Linked DNA regions of Homo sapiens: region 2 is linked to region 1. The links come from fine-mapping of genetic effects on gene expression. Tissue or cell type: monocytes after Pam3CSK4. Region 1 holds a variant in brackets; the other region holds the start of a gene. All regions are shown on one strand. Distances are between the middles of the regions.

Region 1 (8,102 bases):
CATGCTTCCAGTTCCTTCTATGATCTCACCATTATTACATGGGGGAAGATTTCTCTCTCTCTTTTTTTTTTTTTTAAGAGACAAGGTCTTGCTCTGTCACCCAGGCTGGAGTAGTACAACGGCACGATCATAGCTCACTGAAGCCTCGAACTCCCAATCTCAAGTGATCCTCCTGCCTCAGCTTCCTGGGTCGCTGGGACTGCAGATGTGCACCACCATACCTGGCTAATTTTCTTTTTTTTTTTTTTTTTTTTTTTTTTAGACAGAGTCTCACTCTGTCGCCCAGGCTGGAGTGCAGTGGCGCAATCTCGACTCACTGCAAGCTCCACCTCCTGGGTTCACGCCATTCTCCTGCCTCAGCCTCCCAAGTAGCTGGGACTACAGGCGCCCGCCACCACACCAGCTAATTTTTTGTATTTTATATTTTTAATAGAGACAGGGTTTCACCGTGTTAGCCAGGATGGTCTCGATCTCCTGACCTCGTGATCCGCCCACCTCAGCCTCCCAAAGTGCTGGGATTATATTTATTTATGTATTTATTTATTTTTGAGATGGAGTCTTGCTCTGTCGCCCAGGCTGGAGTGCAGTGGCGCAATCTCGGCTCACTGCAAGTTCTGCCTCCCGGGTTCACACCATTCTCCAGCTTCAGCCTCCCGAGTAGCTGGGATCACAGGTGTGCACCACCACACCCAGCTAATTTTTGTATTTTCACGGAGATGAGGTTTCACCGTGTTGGCCAGGCTTATCTCAAACTCCTGACCTCAGGTGATCTGCCTGCCTCCGCCTCCCAAAGTGCTGGGATTACAGGCATGAGCCACCACGCCCGGCCTACCTGGCTAATGTTTAAATTTTTTGCAGAGATGTGTTCTGCCGGGAAAAAAAAAAAAGACACACCTTTACGTTGCCCAGGCTGGTTTCAAACTCCTGACCTGAAGTCATCCTTCCACTCAGCTTCCCAAAGTGCTGGGATTATAGGCACGAGCCGCTGTGTACTTGCCATCGTGGGGGGATTTTATATCCCAGACACCCAGAACTGCCCCTTAGCTTCTGTTTTTTTTTTTTGTTGTTGTTTTTTTTTTTTAGACACAGTCTTGCCCTGCACGTCAGGCTGGAGTGCAGTGGTGCCACCTCGGCTCACTGCAACCTCTGCTTCCCCGGTTCAAGCAATTCTCCTGCCTCAGCCTCCCAAGTAGCTGGGATCACAGGTGTGCACCACCACACCCAGCTAATTTTTGTATTTTCACAGAGATGAGGTTTCACCGTGTTGGCCAGGCTTGTCTCAAACTCCTGACCTCAGGTGATCTGCCTGCCTCCGCCTCCCAAAGTGTTGGGATTACAGGCGTGAGCCACTGCGCCCAGCCTGAAAGCATCATCTTTTCTTTTTTCCTTCCATAGCATTTCTCACCTTCTAACACACCCTGCCACATACCTACTTGTCACTGTATTCCACGGGCTCTGAGATGCCGTCAAATATAAGATGCACCTTTGGGTCAGGCACGGTGACTCACGCCTGTAATCCCAGCACTTTGGGAGGCCAAGGTGGGTGGATCACCTGAGGTTGGGAGTTCGAGACCAGCCTGACCAACATGGAGAAACCCCGTCTCTACTAAAACTACAAAATTAGCCGGGCATGGTGGCGCATGCCTGTAATCCCAGCTACTCGGGAGGTTGAGGCAGGAGAATTGCTTGAACCCGGGAGGCGGAGCTTGCAGTGAGCCGAGATTGCGCCACTGCACTCCAGCCTGGGCGACAGAGTGAGATTCTGTCTCAGAAAAAAAAAAAAAAAAACCATAAAAAATTTAAAAAACGTTTTCAATTGCTATCTCATTTCATCATCACCATCATCACGTTGTACAGATGGGGAAACTGAGGCCCCCAAAGGGACAGAGGGTTTTTCAAAGCCACCGATCAAGTCTGAAATCGACTCCCCTGTCCTGAGGTTTGTCTCCGCCCTGCAGCCTCCATCCCCCAGTTCCAAATCAGGGCACCCCGGACATTCCAGGACTGGCTTCACCCTGACATCGAGCTCTGGCCGAGCTCCCTCGTTTGGTGAAAATCTAATCACGCCAGCCTGAATGCTGACATCGAAATGACTGCCGAGCCCTTGACTCGGGGTAATTAGGAGCATTTTGGGATGCCTTGCTTGATTAAAAGCAGATCACCCGTTCAGAATGAAAATTCAGGAGGCAGATTGCTTTTGTTGTTGCCACGATGCTATTTTAAACCCACGCAGCTCTCCAGCTAATAAAGACCCGTCAATCGGCTGTCGGGGTGTTCAGGACGAACTGTCTGCAGGGTTCCCCCACTGCTGTTTACCACAGCACCACAGCCCAGAGGGACCCCTGTCAGGACATCAGAGCCAGCAGGGTGCAGGTTGACCTCAGTGTCACTCCCAAACCTCTCAGGGTTACTCCCCGTGTCTGCCTGGTCCCTGAACCAGAAAGTCAGATGTCGACCTGGTCTCTTCTCGCCCTCATCCCCTCCCCAGATCCTATCCCACCTGTCCCCAGGACCCCCTCCTGCCCGGATTCCAGTTCCTGGCTCCTCCCTGGCCTCTAGCCTCCCATCCGTCCTCCCCAGAAAGCTCCTTTTTTTTTTTTTTTTGAGACAGGGTCTCGTTCTGTCACCCATGCTGGAGTGCAGTGGCAAGATCTTGACTCACTGCAGCCTCGACCTCCTGGGCTCAGGTGATCCTCACACCTCAGCCTCCAGAGTAGCTGGGACCATAGGTGCATGTGCCACCATGCCTCATTTTTGTACCTTTTTGTATAGACAGGGTTTCACTATGTTGCCCAGGCTGGTCTCGAACTCCTGGGCTCAAGTGAGCCTCCTGCCTCAGCCTCCCAAAGTGCTGGGATTACAGGTGTGAGCCATCGCACCCAGCCCCAAGAAGGCTCCTTCTAAGGTTTGCTCAGCCTCCCTGTGCTTTGACTTCACCCAATGAACCACTTCTTATTCTTCCAGACTCAGTCACCTCCTCTGACCTCCAGGCTGGCCCAGAGACCCCCTCTTTTCTCTAATCACCCAGGTCGGAACCACCCTTTCCTGGGTCCGCCTCCTGCCTGGACTGTGAGCCATGTGTGGATGGGGTCAGGTC[T/C]GTGGTGCTCACTGATGGTTCTCCAGAGCCCAGCACAGGTTCGGGCACCAGGAAAGGGAGGTAAATATTGATGAATGTGGGTCCGGGCATGGTGGCTCACGCCTGTAATCCCAGCACTTTGGGAGGCCGAGGCGGGCAGATCACTTGAGGTCAGGAGTTCAAGACCAGCCTGGCCAATATAGCGAAACCCCATCTCTACTAAAAACACAAAAATTAGCCAGGCTTGGTGGCATGCACCTGTAATCCCAGCTACTCGGGAGGCTGAGACAGGAGAATCACTTGAGCCCAGGAGGCGGAGGTTGCACTGAGCTGAGATCGCGCCACTGCACTCCAGCCTGGGCAACAGAGACTCCAGTAAAAAAAATAAATAAATAAAAATAAAAATACTGATGAATGAAGGAATGAATGCATGCATGCATTGGGGTGGGAGGTACTAGGAACACCCTGGATCTCAAGGTATCGGGACCTCAAATGGCCCATCTCTCTGCCCTGAAGCACCCCCTTCTGCCAGTCTAGGTCCTGACCTGCACCCCAGCCAGGGGGAGGGACAGAGGCCTCCCTCAGAGACTCAGCCTTCAGCTCATGATTTCCCCAGCAGAGGAAGGGACAGGACAGCCCCTTAGCCTGACCCCTTCCCCACCCCAACCCCCAAAGACACCAATATGTCCACATCACATAGATGCAGGCATTCTGTCCGACCCCAGGAACAGATAATCCAATGCCGGGGAGAGGATGGGGGTGGGCTCCAGGGCTGGGCTCCCTGTTTTTCAGGGGCCAGTGGCTGGGCATGGAGTTGGACGACAGAGAAGGCCCTGGAGGCCAAGGGAAAGGATTCCAGCAGAAGATGCGGGGGAGGGCTGCAGTGGGAAGTCTGTCCTGTAGTCTAACCTTGGGCCGGGGAGTGATGTAACACAGCGGTTCTCCTTGTGGGTGATTCTGCCCCCCAAGGGACACTTGACCATGTCTGGGGGTATTTGTGCTTGTCACCTCTCCGTAGCGGGGGTGTGCTGCTGGTATCCAATGGGTGGAGGCCAGCGATGCTGTGGCACAACCTAAAACGCACAGGACACTCCCCACCTCAGAGAGTAACACAGCCCCAGATATCAGCCATGCCATCCGGGCGCGGTGGCTCACGCCTGTAATCCCAACACTTTGGGTGGCTGAGGTGGGAGGATGGCTTGAGCCCAGGAGTTTGCGACCAGCCTAGGCAACATGGTGAAACCACATCTCTACAAAAGGAAAAAAGTACAAAAAATTAGCTGGGTGTGGTGGTGCATGCCTGTGGTCCCAGCTACTCGGGAGGCTGAGGCAGGAGAATCGCTTGAACCCAGGAGGCGGAGGTTGCAGTGAGCTGAGATCATGCCACTGTACTCCAGCCTGGGCCACAGAGTGAGCCTCCATCTCAAAAAGAAAAAAGGCCGAAGGGGAGAGCATCTAATGTCAGCTAACACTTAGGGACACCCACTCTGGCCCAGGCTTTTCTGGGGGCTGCTTGACCACCCTAACTTCCCGTGAGGTGTGCATGAACATCATTCCATTTCCAGATGTGGAAAACCGAGGCCCACAGCAGCAAAGCCACAGCCCCAAGGTCGCACGGTGTGTTTGAAGGTCAGCCACACGGGGGCAAGGAATTTTGTTTCTGGCTAATTCACTGCTGGGTCCTTGGGGTCCTAGAATCAGGCCTGGCACATAGCAGGTGCTCAGGAAACACTGAATGAATGAATGAATGAATGAATGAATGAATGAATAGCAGAGCTGGGATTCAGACCCAAGCTGGTGGATGCCAGAGCCCCCCACTCGCAGCCCTGGGCTCGGAGGGGGGGACTTCTGCTGCCCTTTATGTCCCTGCAACCCCCTGGACTGCTGAGCCCCACGGGCCAGGCGCTGTCAGGATCCTGGAGGCCGCAGCTGATGTTTAAAGTCCCTATTGTGGTTCCTGAAAAAGGAGCAGGTGTTGGCAGCTTGGCTTCGCCAAGGAGGCCCTGCGGCCGGCGCCTTTGTCCCTTGAGCTGGTAAAATCCTCTGCTCGGCCGCTCCATTCAACCCACTCAATTCCACGTTCCACTTTCACCCCCGTCCACATTCTTCGCCTGCAAATCCCCCATTCTGAGCGGCTGGGCCCAAAAGGCGGGCGTCTTTGTTCGTCTTTTCTTGTCCTCCTCTGCCCGTTAATCTAATCGCTTCCTCTCTGAGATGCGGGAGGAAGGAGAAGGGAGGGAGGAAAATAAACAAATACTGAGGGTAAAAGAAAAGATTCGCCGAGGTTTCCATTGAAGGGGATTTCGCCTGCCACTTTGAGATATTGACAAAGGCTGGTGGGGGGCGAGGGGAGGCTTGCGGCGGGGAAGTCGGGCACTGGGCGGGTGGACCTGGCTCCCGGCGCTGCATTGAGATATTCAGAAAAACAAATTCATCTGGCCTGTCTTCCTGACAGTTTGACTGCCAGACACTGGTAAGTCCAGGCCAGGGGAGACAGCTGTCAACCATCCCGAGCTGAAGAGTTTGGGAAGGAAGGCAGAGACCAACGGGGCCCATTCCCCTCTCTCTCCCCGATTTGCTGTGTGACCTTGAGGGACATGCCTGCTGTCTCTGTGCCTTGTCACTAAGAAGCGGCCCTTTATGTCCCCACTTTGGAGGGATGGAGGATTCAGGGGTGCTCAGAGAGTGAAAGGTGTTTGCACAAGTTTACCCAATGCTGCCGAAGCAAACTCCTGGTTTAGGGCCCCTTCCCAGGACGAGGGAGGAGGGGAGAGGGCTAGAGGCTGGTCAGAGGGTCCAGATGGAGCTCAAAAGCCGTCAACCCAATGTCATCCCACAGGGATTCCCAGGTGACTGAGGGACCCTCTTCTGTCTGAGTCCTCGGCCTTTTCTGTATACTAATAATCTTGTTTTTCTTTTTCTTTTTTGAGATGGAGTCTCCCTCTGTCACCCAGGCTGAAGTGCAGTGGTGTGATCTCGGCTCACTGCAACCTCTGTCTCCTGGGTTCCAGCGATTCTCCTGCCTCAGCCTCCTGAGTAACTGGGCTTACAGGCACCTGCCACCACGCCTGGCTAATTTTTGTATTTTTAGTAGAGACAGGTTTTTGCCATGTTGGCCAGGCTGGTCTCAAATGCCTGGCCTCAAGTGATTTGCCTGCCTCGGACTCCCAAAGTGCTGGTGCTGGGATTACAGGCGTGAGCCACCACGTCCGGCCAAGACGCTATTTCTTTAAAAAAAAAAAAAAAATCAGCAGGTGTTGTGGTGTGTGCCTGTGGTACCAGTTACTCAGGAGGCTGAGGTGGGAGGATCACTTGAGCCTGGGAGGTCAAGACTGCAGTGAGCCATGATCGTGCTACTGCACTCCAGCCTAGGCAACAGAGTGAGACCTTGTCTCTATTTAAAAAAAAAAAAAATAGATGATGGCCAGGCACAGTAGCTCACTCCTGTAATACCAGCACTTTGGGAGGCCGAGGAGGGCTGATCTCTTGAGATCAGGAGTTTGAGACCAGCCTGGCCAACATAGTACAACCCCGTCTCTACTAAAACTACAAAAAAATTAGCCGGGCGTGGTGCCACACACCTGTAATCCCAGCTACTCAGGAGGCTGAGGCAGGAGAACAGCTTGAACCCCAGAGGCAGAGGTTGCAGTGAGCCGAGATCGCGCCACTGCACTCCAGCCTGGACAACAGGGCGAGACTCCATCTCAGAAAAAAAAAGAAAAAGAAAAAGGCCGGGTGCAGCAGCTGACGCCTGTAATCCCAGCACTTTGGGAGGCCGAGGTGGGCAGATCACCTGAGGTCAGGAGTTTGAGACCAGCCTGGCCAACATGGTGAAACCCCATCTCTACTAAAAATACAAAACTTAGCTGGGCGTGGTAGGGGGGTGGGCGTCTATAATCCCAGCTACTTGGGAGGCTGAGGCAGGAGAATCACTTGAACCCAGGAGGCAGAGGTTGCAGTAAGCCGAAATCACGCCATTGCACTCCAGCCTGGGCGACAAGAGCAAGACTCGGACTTAAAAAAAAAAAAAAATGCATGAAAAGCCCAAGGTTTGGTGCATAAAGAGATGGCAGAAATCAAAGTCTCAGAGATTTCGTGCAAAACTTGCCCCCAAAGGATCCTGCAATCCCACCCCTAGGCTTTTATTTTCTTTGATGATACACGTGCCTGTGTCCCTGGGTGGGGAATCTTGCTATTGTTAGGAAATGAAACGCCACCGCCTGAGCTTGATTGCGTTCTTCCCACCCCCGCTGCCCAGGATCCACTCACAATGGGGGACGGGGGACGTGGGGGGCACGGAAGCCCCAACACGGGAGGTGGAATTAATCACAGCACCATACATGGGAGGTGCCTCAATTGTTGCAATCTATGTAATGAGAGAAAAACAAAAATGACTGCTTCCCTGAGGAATTAGAGGGAGGCGTTTTCCATTAGGGTTTTGTTGATGAAAAAGGACACGATTAGAGAAAATCCTGTTGTTGGCAGGGCCCTGGTCCCGGGTTCGAGCCAGAGAGGGGCACTCCAAGGAAACGGTGTCTGGGGCCGGGAGCAGGGCTCACGCCTATAATTCCAGCACTTTGGGGGGCCGAGACGGGCGGATCACAAGGTTAGGAGTTTGAGAACAGCCTGGCCAACATAGTGAAATGCTGTCTCTACCAAAAATACAAAAATTAGCCAGGCGTGGTGGCGGGCGCCTGTAGTCCCAGCTACTCGAGAGGTTGAGGCAGGAGAATCTCTTGAACCTGGGAGGCAGAGGTTGCAGTGAGCTGAGATCGCGCCACTGCACTCCAGCCTGGGTGACAGAGCAAGACTCTGCCTCAAAAATAAATAAATACAAAAATACAAAAATTAGCTGGGCACGGTGGCTCACACCTGTAATCCCAGCACTTTGGGAGGTGGAGGCAGGCGGATCACTTGAGGTCAGGAGTTTGAGACTAGCCTGGCCAACATGGCGAAACCCCATCTCTACTGAAAATATAAAAATTAGTAGGGTGTGCTGGCACACACCTGTAATCCCAGCTACTCA
Region 2 (8,102 bases), 820 kb before region 1:
ACTGGCCTCTTGCACGATGTTACCACCGGGGAACCTGGTTAAACGGTACTTGGATCTCTCTGTAGGATTTCTTACAAGTGAATGTAAATCTACCATGATCTCAAAACATACAGTTTTACTTTTTTTTTTTTTTTTGAGATGGAGTCTCGCTCTGTCACCCAGGCTGGAGTGCAGTGGTGCGATCTCAGCTCACTGCAACCTCTGCCTCGTGGGTTCAAGCGATTCTCCTGCCTCAGCCTCCTGAGTAGCTGGGATTACAGGCGCGTGCCACCACGCCCTGCTAACTTTTGTATTTTCAGTAGAGATGGGGTTTCACCATCTTAGCAAGGCTGGTCTCAAACTCCCAACCTCAGGCGATCCACCTGCCTTGGCCTCTCAAAGTGCTGGGATTACAGGCGTGAGCCACCGCGCCCAGCCCAGTTTTACTTTTAAGAAAATGGACCCATGAATCCCACTTCTGGGTGGTTTTCCCACAGATGTAACTGCACTTGTACAATGAACCCTGGCCAAGGTTATTCACGGACTGGGTTGGAAGTAACCCTCAATCCATTAGTACGGGATTGTCAACTCCACACGTCCATGCAACTGAAGCGCTTTACATAGGATACAGAAAAATCTCTAGGAGGCCGGGCACCGGTGGCTCACACCTGTAATCCCAGCACTTTGGGAGGCCGAGGCAGGCTGATCATTTGAGGTCAGCAGTTCAAGATCAGCCTGGCCAACATGGCGAAACCCATCTCAAGGTGTTGACCGGGCTAGGCTCTTACTGGTAGCTCAAGGTCCTCTTCCAAGCTCTTGTGGTTGTGGCAGATTTCAGTTCCTCTTGGTTGCGGGACTGAAGTCTTCATTTCCTTGCTGCCAGCCAGAGGCTGTTCTCAGCTCCTAGAGGCCGCGTGTATTCCCTGCCCTGCAGTTCCCTCAAGGGCAGCAGTGGCGTATGTGTCCATGTGCTTCAAATCACCCTTTTTTTTTTTTTTTTTTTTTTTTTGAGACAGAGTCTCGCTCTGTCGCCCAGGATGGAGTGCAGTGGCGCGATCTTGGCTCGCTGCAAGCTCCGCCTCCCGGGTTCACGCCATTCTCCTGCCTCAGCCTCCCCAGTAGCTGGGACTACAGGTGCCCACCAAAACACCCGGCTAATTTTTTGTATTTTTAGTAGAGACGGGGTTTCACCGTGTTAGCCAGGATGGTCTCGATCTCCTGACCTTGTGATCCACCCGCCTCGGCCTCCCAAAGTGCTGGGATTACAGGCATGAGCCAGTGCGCCTGGCTCGCCCGGCTAATTTTTGTAGTTTTAGTAGAGACGGGGTTTCACCATGTTGGCCAGGCTGGTCTGGAGCTCCTGACTTCAGGTGATTCGCCAGCCTTGGCCTCCCAAAGTGCTGGGATTATAGGCATGAGCCACTGTGCCTGGCCCAAATCATCTTTACTGGCTCTTCTGCCACCAGCTGGAGACAACAGCCAGCAAGGAAACCGGGACCTTGGTCCCTGAACCACAAGTAACTGAATTCTGCCAACTAAGAGCTTGAAGGAGAGGATTCTTCTCCCAGCCCAGAGACTTTTTTTTTTTTTGAGACAGGGTCTTGCTCTGTTGCCCAGTAGCACAATCACGGCTCACTACAGCCTTGACCTCCTGGGCTCAAGCGATCCTCCCACCTCAGTCTCCCAAGTAGCTGGAACCACAGGTGCACGCCACCACGCTGGGCTAATTTTTTTATTTTCTGTAGAGATGGGGCATGAGCCACCATGCCTTGCCTGTGATACCTTTATTTATTTATTATTTATTTTTTGAGACAGAGTCTCGCTCTGTTGCCCAGGCTGGAGTGCAGTGGCACAATCTTGGCTCACTGCAACCTCCGTCTCCTGGGTTCAAGTGATTCTCCTGCCTCAGCCTCCTGAGTAGCTGGGACTACAGGCATGTGCCACCATGCCCAGCTAATTTTTGTATTTTTAGTAGAGATGAGGTTTTGCCATGTTGGCCAGGCTGGTCTCGAACTTTGACCTCAGGTGATCTGCCCGCCTCAGCCTCCCAAAATACCTTGAGTTTGGTTTTATGAAGCACACAACTGAGCTGACCCAGACTTCTGACCTACAAAGCTATGAGATAATAAATGGGTGCTGTTTTAAGCCCCTAAGCTGTGATAACTTGTTGCACTGCACATAAAATACAACATCCCAACAGATGCTCATGGGGATGGCAGACTCCCATCTCCCCTCCCTCCTTCTGTCCAGACATTTGCTTGCTCTGTAGAATAATAACAGCAGAATCTGTCGTCACTGTTTAATGCCAATACTCTCCCTTTTTATTGGTTTAGGAAGAGTCATTCAATGAGTGTAAGGTGATATAGGTGAGACCCAACCCTGCTGTCTGCTACAGAACATCTCCCTACAACAATGGATACTGTCACAGTAAGCTAGAGGGAATTTTGAACAACTCACCTCATTGGTCCCTCCTTGAGAGGCGTAAGTGAACATACACGTATATTTGTCCTAGAGAATGGAAGGAAAAAAAAGGTTTGGTAGAAGGAAATTTTTATTTTGTTTAAGAGACGGGGTCTTGCTGTCACCCAAGCTGGAGTGCAGGGGCACAATGACAGCTCACTGCAGCCTCGAACTCCCAGGTTTGAGTAATCCTCTTGCCTCAGCCTCTCAAGTAACTGAGACAATAGGTACGCAACCACCACACCCGACTAATTTTTTTTTTTTTTTTTGAAGCAGAGTCTTGTTCTGTCGCCCAGGCTGAAGTGGGATGATCTCAGCTCACTGCAACTTCTGCCTCCCGGGTTCAAACGATTCTCCTGCCTCAGCCTCCTGAGTACTTGGGATTACAGGCACCTGCTACCACACCTGGCTAATTTTTCGTATTTTTGTAGAGATGGGTTTTGCCATGGGACCTGGACAAGTGAAAACTTTTCTGAGCCTCTAGTTTCTCTCTGTTTCTCTTTTTTATGTGAAGCATTTTCTCATCTGTAACTTGGGCCTAACATATAAAGGACTTGGCATCACACCTAACTATAAGGAAGTAGTCAACAAACTGGCCTGGCACAGTGGCTCACGCCTGTAATCCCATCACTTTGGGAGGCCGAGGTGGGCGGGTCACCTGCGGTCAGGAGTTCAAGACCAGCCTGGCTAACATGGTGAAATCCCATCTGTACTAAAAATACAAAGATTAGTAGTCCCAGCTACTTGGGAGGCTGCGGCAGGAGAATGGCATGAACCTGGGAGGCAGAGGTTGCAGTGAGCCAAGATCGCGCCACTGCACTCCAGCCTGGGCGACAGAGTGAGGCTCCATCTCAAACAACAACAACAACAATTATCCGGGTGTGGTGGCACACGTCTGTAATCCCAGGTACTGGGGAGGCTGAGGCAGAAGAATTGCTTGAACCCAGAAGGCTAAGGATGCAGTGAGCCGAGATCCCGCCACTGCACGCAAGTCTAAAAAGAAATAGTCAAAAAACAGTAAAGATACTGTTATTACAGGCGGGGAAAGGGAGGCTGAGAGGGGAAAGGACTTTGCCGACAAGCTGAGTACAGGGCTGAGGGCCCGGCCTCACACCCTCGGTGAGGGGGGACCTTGTGCAATGGAAGGAAGGAGCACTTCCTCCCTCTTCGGAGCTGCAGCGACTGATTTCCTTCAGGCCCAGGAGGGCAGATGCCCTTTAGCCTCCTGCCGCTCCCATCACTGACCCCTCCCCACCTCTGCGTCTGGAGGGCAGGGGTGCCTGGACACTCCAGGCAGGCGACAGGTGACAGGTGATCACGCCCCCTCAACGCCGCCGGGGCCCACAAGGCCCCGCTCCCTATGAGTTCAGTCCTGCCCCAGTGATGACCCCGGCCTCACGGTCCCGCGCCCCCCACTCAGCCTCCGACCCTAACAATCCGCACCCCTTCTTCAGTACCCACCTCCGCGGTCCGCGCCCCCTCCTCGGGCCCCGCCCCCAATGCTCCGCGCCCCCTCCCCGGGCCTGCCAGCACTCAAATATCCGGGACGGCGGTGGCACGTACCCCCGGGCCCACGTTATGGGAGAAGGAATGCACGACGCCGCCGGGCCGCACGTCAAACGCCACCGTCGTGGGCTCGGACACCGCCTCCGCCGGCCTCAGCGCCACGGCCCCTAGGAGCAGCGCGGCCCACAAGCTCGCGCCGACGCCGTTCCACCCTCCGCTGGGCGCCGCCATGTTGGACTAGGGTCCTCAGGGCAGGGGCGGGTAGACGGGGCGCGGCGAGGGACACGTGGAGCGTCCGCCGGAGGCCACGTCGGCGTCGGCTGTCCACGTGACCCGGCACGCCCCGCCCTGTCCACCGCCCGGGGCCACCATCTTGGGGGCGGGACTTTGTCGAGGGGGCGGGACTTTTGCCGAGGGGGCGGGGCCGCCGAGGGGGCGGGGCCGCCGAGGGGGCGGCCTCGTACCCTAGGGACCCTGCGTAGCCCGGCGATCCTTGGAGGGTCCCTCAGGTGGTAATGGAGTTCGTTTTGGGGTCTCAGGGTCCCTCACCAGCCGTGTGACTGACTGCAGCTCTTTCAGTTAGGAGATGTACAGGGAGTGAGGGAAATCGAAGGTCACCATTAGGCGAACTTCTCATAATCGTTGCAGCCAAGATGTGTGTGCATCGATATTCAAAATTAGCAGAGGGAAAGTAGGATGAGAAGCAGGATGCTTGCTTTTGTTTCCCTCTTGTTGCCCAGGCTGGAGGGCAGTGGCGCGATCTCGGCTCACTGCACTCTCCGCCTCCCAGGTTCAAGTGATGCACCTGCCTCAGCCTCCCGAGTAGCTGGGACTACAGGTGTTCACCACCACCCCTGGCTAATTTTTGTATTTTTAGTAGAGACAGGTTTTCACCATGTTGGCCAGGCTGGTCTTGAGCTCCTGACCCCAAGTGATCCGCCTGCCTCGGCCTTCCAAAGTGCTGGGATTACAGGTGTGAGTCATCACGCTCGATCAGTCTGTGTATTTGTTAATAGGATTATGTGGGTGTTCACTTCCTGGCTTTGATAACCTGGCTTGTCCTAGGGGTTACAGACGATGTTCACATTAGGGGGAGTTGGATGAAGCGTATTAGGAAACCCTACAGTTTCTGCAGATTTTCTGGGAGGCAAAAATTATTTCAAAATAAAAAGTTAAAAAGAAAATAATCCCTACCTCAAGGAGTTGTTGGGAGGAGTAAGTGAGGGAATTAAGTTCCCACACCGGGACGAATGAACTGAGAATTATATATTGTAGCTATTGCTATCATTAGATCCCAGGTTTTCAACTAGAGAAGGAAGTCATTCTTTGGTTACAAATGGCTTAACATTTCAAGAAAACACCAGTGGCCAGGCCTGGGGGGTCAATAATTAAGCTGGTGTTTCTAGTCCTTCCCAACTGGCAAAAAACAGAATCCAGAGAGAAAACGTCATAGATGACTCCTAAGATGGGTTATAATTCACCCTTTGAGGAATTAAATCACTCTACTCCATAGCTACGGAGGGTGGTGAGCCCCAGGGAGGTGAGAAGGATCCCCGTGGAGGCTGACTCCTCTGCCAATGACAGAAGTCCAAGCCAGTTGCCTTTCTGCAGTGGCAGCCTGTTCTAAATTGGGATACCTGCTTGCGTTAGGAAATTTATTGGCCGGGCGTGATACTTCATGCCTGTAATTCCAACCCTTCGGGAGGCCAAGGTGGGTGGATTGCTTGACCTCAGGAGTTCTAGACCATTCTGGGCAACATAGTGAGACCCCATTCCTATATATATATTCATATATTCACATATGTGAATATATATATTCATATATTCACATATGTGAATATATATATTCATATATTCACATATGTGAATATATATATTCATATATTCACATATGTGAATATATATATTCATATATTCACATATGTGAATATATATTCATATATTCACATATGTGAATATATATTCATATATTCATATATACTTATATATTCATATATTCATATATACTTATATATTCATATATATGAATATATATTCATATATTCATATATATGAATATATATTCATATATTCATATATACTTATATATATATTCATATATTCATATATACTTATATATATTCATATATTCATATATATGAATATATATTCATATATATGAATATATATATTAATATATTCATATATATATACTTATATTCATATATTCATATATATACTTATATTCATATATTCATATATATACTTATATTCATATATTCATATATATACTTATATATATTCATATATTCATATATATACTTATATATATTCATATATTCACATATATACTTATATATATTCATATATTCATATATATACTTATATATATATATATTTAAAGATATTTTAAGATTATTTTTTAAAGATAGCCGGACATGGTGGTGGGCGCCTGTAATCCCAGCTACCTGGGAGGCTGGGGCAGGAGAATCTTTTGAACCCAGGAGGCATAGGTTACGGTGAGCTGAGATCATGCCACTGCACTCCAGCCTGGGTCCCAGAGCAAGACTCCGTCTTAATAAATAAAGAAATAAACAAACAAATCTCTTCCTCCATGCAGCTGTCTGTTCTGGACCCATGAGACACTGTCTCCATAAACTGGACAAGCACAGAGCAGCCCTGTTCCTTAGGTGAGTGACACAGCACGGTTCCACTGATGGAGTCCCCATTACCTTACCACGGTGTTCAACTTTCAGCCTGTCACCATGAAGGATTCGATGCATGGCCGAGCTCTGCGGCTAACAAGGAATTTCAGTTGTGAGCTGTTGGGAGTCTGCTACGGAACCCAGGCAGGTTGTGCGTATGCGTGTGCATGCGTGTGTGTGTTCTTTCCAGAAAGGTTTCGGCCCCAAGTTTCACCCACCCACCACAAATCATCACACTAAAAGGATTAAAAGAAAAAACAAGGCTGGCCCCAGTACTTTGGGAGGCAGATCACTTTGAGCTCAGGAGTTTAAAAACTGCCTGGGCAAGATGGCAAGACACCGTCCCTATAAAAAATACAAAAACATTAGCTGGGCATGATGGCTTGTGCCTGTAGTCCCACTTACTTGGGAGGCTGAGGCCAGAGGATGACTTGAGCCATGGAAGCAGAGGTTGCAGTGAGCTGAGATTACACCACTGCACTCCAGCCTGGGTGACAGAGCGAAACCCTGTGTCCAAAAAAAAAAAAAAAAAAAGGAAAGAAAGAAAAAGAAAAGAAAACAAGGCTGGACACAGTGGCTCTTGTAATCTCAACACTTTGGGAGGCCAAGGTGGGAGGATCACTTGAGCCCAGGAGGTCGAGGTTGCAGTAAGCTGTGATTATACCACTGCATTCCTGCCTGGGTGACAGAGGAGCAAACAACAAATTATTCCACGGATCCCACTAATCATGATATGAAATCTGTCAGTCCTAAAGGACAAGATTCGATCACACAAATATTAGATTATTTATTTATTTTTTTTTTTAAATTTGAGACAAGGTCTTGCTCTGTCGCCCAGGCTGAAATGCAGTGGTAGTTTCAGCTCCCTACAGCCTTAACCTCCTGGGCTCAAATGATCCTCCCACTCAGCCTCCCAAGTAGCTGGGATTACAAGGCATGCAACACTCACCCAGCTATTATTATTATTATTTTTTTGTAGTGATGGGGTTTATGCCATGTTGCTGTGGCTAGTCTCAAACTCCTGTGCTCAAATGATTCACCCACCTTGGCCTCCCAAAGTGCTGGCATTATAGGTGTGAGCCACTGTGCCTGGCCTCCTTTTTGTGTGTGTGTGTGTCTGTGTGAGACAGGGTCTCACTCTGTTGCCCAGGCTGGAGAAACCTCCTCAGCTCACTGCAACCTCCTCCTCCTCCAGGGCTCAAGTGATCCTCCCACTGCAGCCTCCTGAGTAGCTGGGACTACAGGCGTGCACCATTGCGCTGGGCTAATTCTTCAATTTTTAGTCGAGATGGGGTTTCACCATATCGCCCAGGCTGGTCTCAAACTCCTGGGTTCAAGTGATCTGCTGGCCTCAGCCTCCCAAAGTATTGCGATTACAGGCGTGAGCCACCACACATGGCCTTTTTTTTTTTGAGGCTGATCTCAAATGCCTGGGCTCAAGCCAACCTCTCGCCTTGGCCTCCTGATTAGCTG

The links. PIP is the estimated chance that this variant, and not a neighbour inherited with it, causes the effect. A credible set is the group of variants that fine-mapping cannot tell apart.
Region 2: MYDGF starts here. The variant in region 1 is the best candidate, but not a certain one, in a credible set for the expression of MYDGF in monocytes after Pam3CSK4 (Quach 2016, PIP 0.85).

Annotation. Positions count from the first base shown.
Region 1 is chr19:5,487,652-5,495,753 of GRCh38, forward strand. No RefSeq gene overlaps it. Among named protein-coding and RNA genes, the nearest start is that of ZNRF4, 36 kb to the left of the region's middle. The variant T/C (reference allele first, on the strand shown) is at 3,098.
Region 2 is chr19:4,666,159-4,674,260 of GRCh38, forward strand. It overlaps MYDGF (myeloid derived growth factor), which reads right to left and starts at 4,184. Exons shown (of 6, transcript NM_019107.4): 1 at 4,003-4,184; 2 at 2,437-2,487. The coding sequence starts at 4,176. RefSeq lists a silencer at 4,184-4,573.